Linked DNA regions of Homo sapiens. The protein of the gene in region 2 interacts with the protein of the main gene of each other region in a pairwise test. Each region holds a gene or a part of one and is shown on either strand. Other genes may lie near its edges. The genes, in order: ELN, CKMT2 and CETN3.

The links.
Region 1: the proteins of CKMT2 (region 2) and ELN interact in a two-hybrid assay, tested with the Homo sapiens proteins (one large-scale study listed by BioGRID and IntAct).
Region 3: the proteins of CKMT2 (region 2) and CETN3 interact in binary tests that used the Homo sapiens proteins (3 or more experiments, as listed by UniProt).

Annotation. Positions count from the first base shown.
Region 1 is NC_000007.14:74,045,117-74,048,769, forward strand, and holds part of ELN (elastin isoform a precursor), read left to right. Parts: intron 1-105; coding exon 106-177; intron 178-1,071; coding exon 1,072-1,101; intron 1,102-1,579; coding exon 1,580-1,651; intron 1,652-2,558; coding exon 2,559-2,600; intron 2,601-3,025; coding exon 3,026-3,085; intron 3,086-3,386; coding exon 3,387-3,440; intron 3,441-3,653. UniProt on the Homo sapiens protein: Major structural protein of tissues such as aorta and nuchal ligament, which must expand rapidly and recover completely.
Region 2 is NC_000005.10:81,257,169-81,260,821, reverse strand, and holds part of CKMT2 (creatine kinase S-type, mitochondrial precursor), read right to left. Parts: intron 3,090-3,653; coding exon 2,966-3,089; intron 1,703-2,965; coding exon 1,568-1,702; intron 1-1,567. UniProt on the Homo sapiens protein: Reversibly catalyzes the transfer of phosphate between ATP and various phosphogens (e.g. creatine phosphate).
Region 3 is NC_000005.10:90,403,208-90,406,860, forward strand, and holds part of CETN3 (centrin-3), read right to left. Parts: intron 2,593-3,653; coding exon 2,478-2,592; intron 1-2,477. UniProt on the Homo sapiens protein: Plays a fundamental role in microtubule-organizing center structure and function. As a component of the TREX-2 complex, involved in the export of mRNAs to the cytoplasm through the nuclear pores.

The DNA.
Region 1 (3,653 bases), on a different chromosome or scaffold from region 2:
AGTCAGTCCCAAGGGAGGTCAGCTGGGGGACCCGAGGAGGGGAGGGGTTCCCAGCAGGGCCTGCAAGGCCTGCCTTCCTACACTCACTGCTTTGTCCCCCGGCAGGAGCTCGGTTCCCCGGTGTGGGGGTGCTCCCTGGAGTTCCCACTGGAGCAGGAGTTAAGCCCAAGGCTCCAGGTATGCAGCTGTCTGGACAGAGGGCTGATGGCAGGGACTCTCCAACCACCTTCTGGCCCCGGGTGTGAAATGGGGTGGGATCCTGGACTGGCTCAGGGCCCTCTGGGTGACACTTTTTATGTTCCAGCCCTGGGCAGCCTGGTGCTGAAAAACCTCAGAGTGTGGCTGGGCACACTGGCTCACACCTGTAATCCCAGTATTTTGGGAGGGTGAGCTGGGAGGATCGCTTGAGCCCAGGAGTTAAAGACCAGCCTGGGCAACATAGCAAGACCTTATCTCTACAAAAACATGATTAAAAAATTAGCCGGACATGGTCACACACACCTATGATCCCAACTATTCAGGAGGCTAAGACAGGAGGATCTCTTGAGCCCAGGAGATCAAGGTTGTCGTGAGCTATGATCACACCACTGCACTCCAGCCTGGGCAACAGAGACCCCGTTCCCCCGCAAAATAAGAAAGAAAGAAAAGAGGGCCAGATGCAGTGGCTCATGCCTGTAATCCCAGCACTTTGGGAGGCCGAGGTGGGCGGATCACCTGAGGTCAGCCTGACCAACACGGTGAAGCCCTGTCTCTACTAATAATACAAAAATTAGCTGGGCGTGGTGGCCTGCACCTGTAATCCCAGCTACTTGGGAGGCTGAGGCGGGAGAATCGCCAGAACCTGGGAGGCAGAGGTTGCGGTGAGTTGAGATCACCCCATTCCACCCCAGCCTGGGCGACAAGAGCGAAACTCCATCTCCGAAAAAAGAAACCCCAGAGTTCATGTGAGCGCAGCATGCGATGACTGGTCTGGGAAGAACTGGCCATTCCTTGGGCCTCCTGGCCCCTTGGTGCTGTCTGGCCCAGTGTCCACAGTTCCAGGGCTGTAGTGACAGCTTTTTATCATTACAGGTGTAGGTGGAGCTTTTGCTGGAATCCCAGGTGAGGCAAGGCTGGTGGGAGAAGCAGGGTGGCCAGCCAGGCAGAGGCTCTGGCGTTGGGAGGGGTTGGGCACCCAAGATCCCATCCAAGCCTGCCCAATTTCTCCCACGCCTGCAGAGCCAGGTCTTGCAGTGGCTGTAGCACAAAGTGGCACCCATCCCAGGCCTGCTCCCCCCACTGGCATAGCAGCCCAAAATTCAAAGGAGTCCAGAAAACCCTCCAGCCTGTGCCAAGGGCTGCAGGCCCAAACTGGGGCCCAGGCCCCAGGAGGGAGAGAATCCCGTAGCTTCCTGGAGGAAGTGGCCTGTCACTGGGAATTTCTCAACTGACCCATGATGGAGATTCAGGGAGTCCCTCGAAGCAGGATGGTTTCTGGATGCTGTAGCAAGCTCCTTCTGTCTGAGCAGAAAGTGGAGTGGGTGGCGGAGGGTTTGGAAGGGGGTGCTGGGACCTGAACTTGCTCTCTTTATTCCCACAGGAGTTGGACCCTTTGGGGGACCGCAACCTGGAGTCCCACTGGGGTATCCCATCAAGGCCCCCAAGCTGCCTGGTAAGTCAGAGGGACGGTTCAAGATGCACCACTCGGCCGGGTGTGGTGGTTCACACCTGTAATCCCAGCACTTTGGGAGGCTAAGGCGGGCAGATCACTTGAGGTCAGGAGTTCAAGACTAGCCTGGCCAACATGGCAAAACCCCGTCCCTACTAAAGATACAAAAATTAGCCAGGTGTGGTGGCATAGGCCTATAATCCCAGCTACTGGGGAGGCTGAGGCAGGAGAATCTCTTGAACCCAGAAGGCAGAGGTTGCAGTGAACTGAGATCGCGCTACTGCACTCCAGCCTGGGTAACAGAGTGAGACTCTCCTCCAAAAAAAGAAAAAGAAGAAAAAAAAAATGTACCACTCACTGCACCTCCCTGCACAGAAGTCAGCCTGGGTACAGGTGTCTCTGGTGGCAGGGAAGGGGTGTTGAAGCCCCTGTATGGTCACCAGCCAAGGAGAGCATGGGAAAGTCATCTGCAGGTATTGAACTCACACACACACGCTCATGCACAGAGACCCATAGTCCCGATCTGAAGCTATTAGGCTGGTGGAAAGGAACACGGTTCATTGGAAAGATCCCTCTAACATCCACCCACTCGTGCTCCCGCCCCTACCTCTGCAATCAGCTTAGACAATAAGATGCTTTCCACTGAGGAGGGGGTGTAAGGAAAATACTCAGACTCCAGGGCCATGATGGGGCTTGAATTTGTAGGGGGATGGGTGTTCCATGGGCCTCGGGGGCAGAGGTGTCCTCTCCCTCCTTCACCCAGCGCCTTTGCTCTCCTGGGAGCAGCTCAGGACCCTGATGTGGGAGGTCTCAAGCTTTAGCACCTGTGGGGGTAGATCTGTCCACCCAGGTTGGTGGGAGCCCAGCAAGGCATGGGGCAGCCCCTGAGTTTGCTCTGTCCTCTCTCCAGGTGGCTATGGACTGCCCTACACCACAGGGAAACTGCCCTATGGTGAGTGAGACCCTTCTAGACTGTGGGCTTCCAGCTCTTTCCCTCTCCAGGGTCCTAGCAAGGGTGCTGTGCTTCCAGCCCTGGGCCAGGAGAGCACCTCGCTGGGGCAGGGTTGGGGTCTTGGAGTGGGAATCTCAGAAGGAAAGGGCATGGAATTTGGACTCAGCATGGGTCTCCATCCCTGCCCTCCCACCTATCAATAATGAGACCTTAAGTGAGCTGTGTTGCTTCTTTGAGCCTCTGTGTTCTCATCTGTAAAATGGACATAACAACTCCATACATGTGTTTGTATTTGTTTTCACTCTGGCTGGGGGTGACAGGTGCAGACTCAGGACAGCTTGGGCCCCGAGGGCAGAGCAGGGGGAGGGGGAGGGCAGCAGTGGTGATGTCTGCACAGATGACCATCAAGCCTCTCTGTTTTGCAGGCTATGGGCCCGGAGGAGTGGCTGGTGCAGCGGGCAAGGCTGGTTACCCAACAGGGACAGGTAAGGAAAGCCTCACGTCACTTCCAGCCAAGGGAGCACTGATCTTCCAGGCTCCAGAGCCCTGGGGTGGGTGAGGTTCCCTCCTGAAAGCAGCAGCCCACCCTGCATCCAGACCCTGGTCCAAACCTGGAGCAGGATCCTGGGGGAGGAGTGGGGCAGCTCCATCAGCCTCTGCCTACTCTGAAGCTCCCATGTATACCCACATGTCAGTGGATTGGCTCTCTTGGGGCTGGGAACAAGTGGGCTCTGGAGATACAGGAGCACTGTTTCAAGGTCTCTCCCCTCTGCTTCCTTCCCCCAGGGGTTGGCCCCCAGGCAGCAGCAGCAGCGGCAGCTAAAGCAGCAGCAAAGTTCGGTGAGTGCCCCTGGAGTCCCCACCTGGTGGCCTCCAGGCCCCTAGCCTCTCCATTCCCATTACTATTGACAGCCTGCCTCCAAAGTGGCCCCTACATACCCCCATTTACTCAAAATTTTCAACATCACCCATCTATCTATCCCTCCCTCCAACCATTCTTCCATGCATCCATGTATCCATTCATCCTTCCATCAATCTATTACTTTCTCCATC
Region 2 (3,653 bases):
ATAGTTTCAGAAGGACTGGTACCAGCTCCTCTTTGTACCTCTGGTAGAATTCAGCTGTGCATCTGTCTGGTCCTAGACTTTTTTTGGTTGGTAGGCTATTAATTACTGCCTTAATTTCAGAACTTGTTTTTGGTCTATTCAGAGATTTGACTTCTTCCTGGTTTAGTCTTGGGAGGGTGTATGTGTCCAGGAATTTATCCATTTCTTCTAGATTTTCTAGTATATTTGCACAGAGGTGTTTATAGTATTCTCTGATGGTAGTTTGTATTTCTGTACGATCAGTGGTGATAGCCCCTTTATCACTTTTTATTGTGTCTGTTTGATTCTTCTCTCTTTTTAGCCTGACTAGTGGTCTATTTTGTTAATCTTTTCAAAAAACCCGCTCCTGGATTCACTGATTTTTTGAAGGTTTTTTTGTGTCTTTGTGTCTCTATCTCCTTCAGTTCTGCTCTGATCTTAGTTATTTCTTGTCTTCTGCTAGCTTTTGAATTTGTTTGCTTTCACTTCTCTAGCTCTTTTAATTGTGATGTTAGGGTGTCGATTTTAGATCTTTCCTGCTTTCTCCTGTGGGCATTTGCTGCTATAAATTTCCCTCTAAACACTGCTTTAGCTGTGTCCCAGAGATTCTGGTACATTGTGTCTTTGTTCTCATTGGTTTCAAAGAACTTATTTATTTCTGCCTTTATTTCGTTATTTACCCAGTAGTCATTCAGGAGCAGGTTGTTCAATTTCCATGTATTCGTGCGGTTTTGAGTGAGTTTCTTAATCTTGAGTTCTAATTTGATTGCACTGTGGTCTGAGAGACTGTTATGATATCCGTTCTTTTGCATTTGCTGAGGAGTGTTTTACTTCCAATTGTGGGGTCGATTTTACAATAAGTGCGATGTGATGCTGAGAAGAATGTACATATTCTGTTGATTTTGGGTGGATAGTTCTATAGATGTGTATGAGGTCCACTTGGTCCAGAGCCGAGTTCAAGTCCTGCATATCCTTGTTAATTTTGTCTGGTTGATCTAATATTGACAATGGGGTGTTAAAGTCTCTCACTGTTATTGTGTGGGAGTCTAAGTCTCATTGTAGGTCTCTAAGAAGAGTGCTCTAAGACAGCGTTCCTCCAAGTGTAGTCCCTTGACCAACAACCCCGGCATCACCTGGAAACTTGTTAGAAATGTGAATTCTGCAGGTGGGGCCTAGCAACTTGTGTTTTACCAAGTCCTTCAGGTGATCTCTTGCATGCTCAAGTTTGAGAACTGCTTGAACTAGGAGAGATGGAGAAAGGAGATAGAAAGAACCAGAGAGAGCAGAGCCTACCTATCCTGATTTGTTACATGAGGAAAAATGTAAAGGCCTTATTCTTGAAGCTACCATCTTTTTCTTACAGCCCCTGAACCTTTTATTCTAACTAATACAAATGTCTTTGGAGGCAAACTTAATTTTTTTCTTATTTTTATATTGTAGATAGAGAAAGTAAGGGTTAAGGAATGGGCAGTGATGTTTTCTTCCTCCACAAAGCAGTCGCATCTGAGCTGATCCTGGCCCATCAGGGCCACTGGGCACATAACAGTACCTTGCTGAGCTTTGGGATCCTAACGTGGACACCAGCTCGTAGTCCTGTTCCAAGGTTCGAAGGACAGGTCAAAATGTATCCTAGGCGCTCATTCCACATGAACTCCCAGCCTCGTTCTTGGATTAACCGTTCTACCTACAAGTAGAACCACAGTGAACAAATGACAGCATTTTCCAACATCCATTCATTCAGCACATCCCTAACACCAGAGAGAGAGATGTGTACCCTCCTCTGGCATGAATGAAATTAAGGTAAATTTATAGTACTCCTTTAAGAGAAAATAATACCTCTCCTACCAGACTATTAAAATGGCCCAATTAAGTTAAATGAACCATGTAAAGCAGTGGTCCCCAACCATTTTTGCATCAGGGACCGGTGTCTTGAAAGATAATGAATGTTTTAAGACAATTCTTCCACAGATCGTAGGGAGGGAATATTTTGGGATGAAACTGTTGTTCCACCTCAGATCATCAGGCATTAGTTTCTCATAAGGAGCACGCAACCTAGATCCCTCACATGCGCAGTTCACAATAGGGTTTGTGCTTCTATGAGAATCTCATGCCTCTGCTGATCTGACAGGAGGCAGAACTCAGGTAGTAATGCTGGCTTACCCACCACTCACCTCCTGCTGTGCGGCCCAGTTCCTAACAGGCCACAGACCTGTACCAGGTCCGTGGCCCCGGGGTTGAGGACCCCTGATGTAAAGCAGTCAACATAGTACCTGGCCTGTACTAAGCACTTGATGAATGTTAGTTGGTGGCATTTTTCATGCCAAGAGAGTAGGAGAATACAGGAATTATCAGCAGGTGAGTCTATGGTCAGGCTACATTCTCTGTCATCTGTATGCTTAGAATAGCTCAGAGCGATATTAAATAAATCAAAAAACAAGTAATGATCCACAGACTTCCCCAAACCACAGTGGAATGGGGAAGTAAGCGTAATAGCTTTCTAATAACAAGAGAAAGTCACTTATTTTCTGAAGCACTACCTTGGAAGTTGCACTCCAAAAAATGCCTTGAGGCTGGGCGTGGTGGCTCATCCAAAAAATGCCTTGAGGCTGGGCGTGGTGGCTCATGCCTGTAATCCCAGCACTTTGAGAGGCTGAGGCCAGCAGATCACCTGTGGTCAGGAGTTCGAGGCTAGTCTGGCCAACATGGTGAAACACCCCTCTCTACTAAAAATACAAAAATTAGCCAGGTGTGGTGGTGGCACCTGTAATCCCAGCTACTCTAGAGGCTGAGGCGGGATAATCACTTGAACCTGGGAGGCGGCAGTTGCTTTGATTTCTAGAAAAAAATTAGCTCCATCTTGGAAGTTACCATAGTGTCTTCTTTCAAGAACAAACAATACGGTAATTTTATTTTAATAAATATCCAGAAATCTCAGATAACATCTTACTTCTTTTAGTCCACGACAGAATCGCTCAAATACTCGTTTCATATTGCCTCCTTTTTCCATTGAGATTACCCTGGTGTGATCCTCCTCATTTATCCAGATGAGAAATGTCTTATCATAATTATGCCTAATGAAGAGAGAAATATGGTACTGAGTGTTAATTGCATTTGTTTCAACACATGAAAATTCCCATTACCTCCCTAGCTTGATTGCTTCATTTCACCTTCCTCATTTCCTAGATGGCCCTAATCTCTTAACTGTGCCTGAACAAGTATGACAAAATAATGTTACTTTGACAGAAGGAAGATTAAGACCAACTCTCACCCTAAAAGATGTCATGTTTTTACCAAACAAGAATATAATTAATTCCCCCTAGGTCCTCTGACTAGGATGACAGTAATTCAACTATATAACATTTGGCTTCGACATTAACAAGAATGTTTTGTCTCCTAAAAGATTCAACCAAAATCTTGTGCTCTAAAAAGCGGGTGGGGGTTACCTTCCACCCAAGATGTTGAAGGTACACAACATTTCACACATTTGCTCCATGGATCCTGCCTGTCCATCCCTACAGAGCAGCTGCACATGAACATTTTTTATTTCTGCTCCTTCAGGCACATAATTCATGCAAACCAGGTCATATTTCTACACATCTTAGAAACACCACAATGCTTAGACACACACACACACA
Region 3 (3,653 bases), 9.1 Mb from region 2:
TTCATAAAACTAGGACTCAAATGTTATGATTTAGAATCATCTGTCCCAAAGTATAAAACATATTAATCTGTGGTCAGTGATTAGTTAAAAATAATCAACAAAAGGGGTAATACATAGTTCCTGAATGATTCCCAAACAGTAATACATTTTTATTTGACACCTGGTACTCTCCATAGGTAGCCTTAAGATAGCTAAGATACATGTTGACCCTGTCAAAAGGTTAATCTTTTAGTGTCAAAGCTGAAGTTTAGCCACATCTATTTATTCTAGAAGGAACCCAGTATTTCTGCTCTGTTAATAACATAGAACAGATGGGGTGTCAGGAAAAAGTGGAGGTGGCATGGGATTCTGGTCCCAACTGCCAATAAAAATCACAATTTTTGGCCGGGCGCGGTGGCTCACGCCTGTAATCCCAGCACTTTGGGAGGCCGAGGCGGGCGGATCACGAGGTCAGGAGATCGAGACCATCCCGGCTAAAACGGTGAAACCCCGTCTCTACTAAAAATACAAAAAATTAGCCGGGCGTAGTGGCGGGCGCCTGTAGTCCCAGCTACTTGGGAGGCTGAGGCAGGAGAATGGCGTGAACCCGGGAGGCGGAGCTTGCAGTGAGCCGAGATCCCGCCACTGCACTCCAGCCTGGGCGACAGAGCGAGACTCTGTCTCAAAAGAAAAAAAAAAAAAAAAAAAAAAAAATCACAATTTTTAAATTGTGTTCATTTAAGGTGAAATAACATATTTTGTAAAATTATTAGTGATGATACAGTGCTTACAATAGCCTTTATGAAAAAAGTCAATAAAAAATATACACAAAGTCTATTTTATGTCCCAGTGATGCATATATGATTATTTCGAGCCCCTGAAACAAAGACAATTTTTTAAAGTAATAATAATAGCAAATGCTTAGTAGCACTTACAACATGCTAGGCCCTTTTCTAGGTACTTCACATATCATTAACTTAATCCTTAGAAGAATCTCATGAGAGAATACAATGATCCCCACTTTATAGTTGAAAATGAGGCATGGGGTATTAAAAAGACCAAGTTCCAGAGCTGTAAAGTGGCAAAACCAAGGTATGAACCAAGGGAATCTGGTTCCAAGTGCTAAACCACTATACTGTACTAAACATACCTGGATTATAGCTCCTTCCTAATAGTACCATTTCCACTATATACAAACACCTTGTTTCTACAAATAAACAATCTAAGGTAAAACTAGGAATACTACGATCATAAACTTCAGGAGAGTGTCCATTCTGGGAGAACAAAAGGTGGCTCTCTCCCTTTCCTCAAATAATTAATTCTACAAATTAGAGGAAAAAAGGAAAATGTCCCCAATGGACAAGTTGCCTCTCTAAACAGTCATATATTAGTTCATAAGTTGAGGATCTTCTGTGCTGTGTTTTTTTTCTCTTAGGTTCATCATTTATTTTCCATCTCAACTGCTTATGACTTGAGCTTTTGGATTTAAAAAACTGACTAATGACATGAATCTAAATTTTCTCTGCGTCTACTAATTGCCATTTCTTTTTGCTTCCCCTATTGCTTCTTGATTAATATTTAAAATAAGGGGTTTGTGTATATAGCAGAATTTGTTTCCAAATTTTTAAAATATCTTAAAATACTTATATGATGTGCTTATATCGTGACCCATTGGTTTAGAGAAAAAAAAAAAAAGAAATAAACCTGAATATTTACATATTTTGTAGATAATATTCTAGACAATACATTTAAGTTATAATAGCAACATCCTTGCCTTCCGGACTCTTCTATTTTGAAAAAGCCTGGTCTATATATGCTATAAATAATTCACTAAAATCAACTATAAAAAAATTTAGCCATATTAAGCCTATGACACATTATCTTCAGTTGGTGGTACTAGGATGTTTTCTCCTGCTTCCAGTATGCCCACTGCCTCCTTTACTACTACCCTCTAAACAGATGACTTTATCCACTGAGATCAAGGTCATCCAGAGGATGTAGCCTCTCATAAACTTTGTCAACCTGAAGTCGTGCATTTCATCTACAGCCAAAGATACCAACTACTACCAGTTCCCTCTTCTCCCACTTAGCCAACAAAAATCACATACCAGAAAGGTCTTGGGAAACATTTTCCAAACAGCAGGATATCAAATTTTCTGTTTTATTAAGCAAAAATAATTTTTTGATCACCCTTCAAGTTTTATCACATAATATAAATACAAACAACTTGGAAAAGCATCTTTCTATAAAAAGCTACACAATAGTTCCTTGGTTAGAATCTTCACAACAAAACAAAAGACAAAACTATAAATCTCAGAGCAAAGCCATATTTTTTCTTTGAAAAAAAAACCAACAAAACAAAACTGAGTAAGAGTCACATTATACACCAGTGTTCTATAAGAAAATTCCATAACCTAGAGAATTTAAAATTTAAAAAGTGATATTAATCAGACAATTTCCTAACAGCTGCTGATTACAAAGACTATTAAAATACACACCAACTTCATTAAAATCTTCAAAGGTGATTTTCCCTGTGGCTTCTCTGTCATAATCTTTAAGAATCTTCAGTACATCAGCTTTTTTTACATCAAACCCCAAGGCTCTCATTGCCACCTTTTGGATTAAAAAGGAAAAGCAAATTATAAAGCACTCTTTACAAAAGAATTTCTAATTATTAAGTTTTTACATCTTAAGAGATGACAACACATTAATAAAATATAACTTTTTTGCATGTTTTACCTCTTTAAAATAGCAGTGATAGTGTAATTGTTCTTCACTACTGAAATTAAGTATGCATAAGTTTTTTCATTTATAAATTGCATTTTTTATATGACAAAGTAACCAACAAGTGTTTACAGATTTTACTATATAAAATGCACTAACTTATTGCACAGATAATTTGATTGTTATTTGTTCTGAAGGGATTAACAATCAAAATGAGAAAAAGGCGTGGCATAAATATTAAACAGTTACATGATAGAAGAGATAAAACATTAAAACAAGAATTATCATCAGTCTTTCCATGATTAGTTACCAGGTAAATGATAGGGCTAAGGACCCTGAGTTTAGAGAAAAAAGAGATTTTGTTACTAATAATAAGGAAGGAGACATATTACTGACTAGAGAAGTCTTATTTGGAAAGATTCAAACTGTTCCTTGAAGGATAGATGAAGAGGAGCAGTAGGGTATTTGGGAAGGATGACTGGTATTAAAAGAAACACTGAAACGAATAGGTTCGAAGGACAATGAACAGAGCAGTTTACCTCACCTGAATTAGAAAAGTTCAGGTGAGGTAAACTGCTCACCTGAATTAGGAGGTGAATTCCACCTTAATTAGAAGAGTTCAGGAGGAAGAAAGCAGTTAGCAAATGAAAAAAGTAGTTGGTGGCAAAAGTGTAGAGAACATTCAGTAGAAAGCAAAGGAATCTGAACTTTAAGTAGTATACAATGAGGAGTTATGGTTTATGAGCAATGAACAATTTATGAGCAATGGTGAAAGAATTTTTAAACTATCTAAATTCAGTGGTAGTGTACAAGGTGAACTAGTAAGAAATCATTTAGGAAGCTCCAGGTATGAAATAAGGTCCCAAACCAAGATAGTCAATGGTTACAAATGGAACAGACATTATAAAGGAAGATCAAATCTGGGTAACCAAAAAAAAAAAAAAACAAAA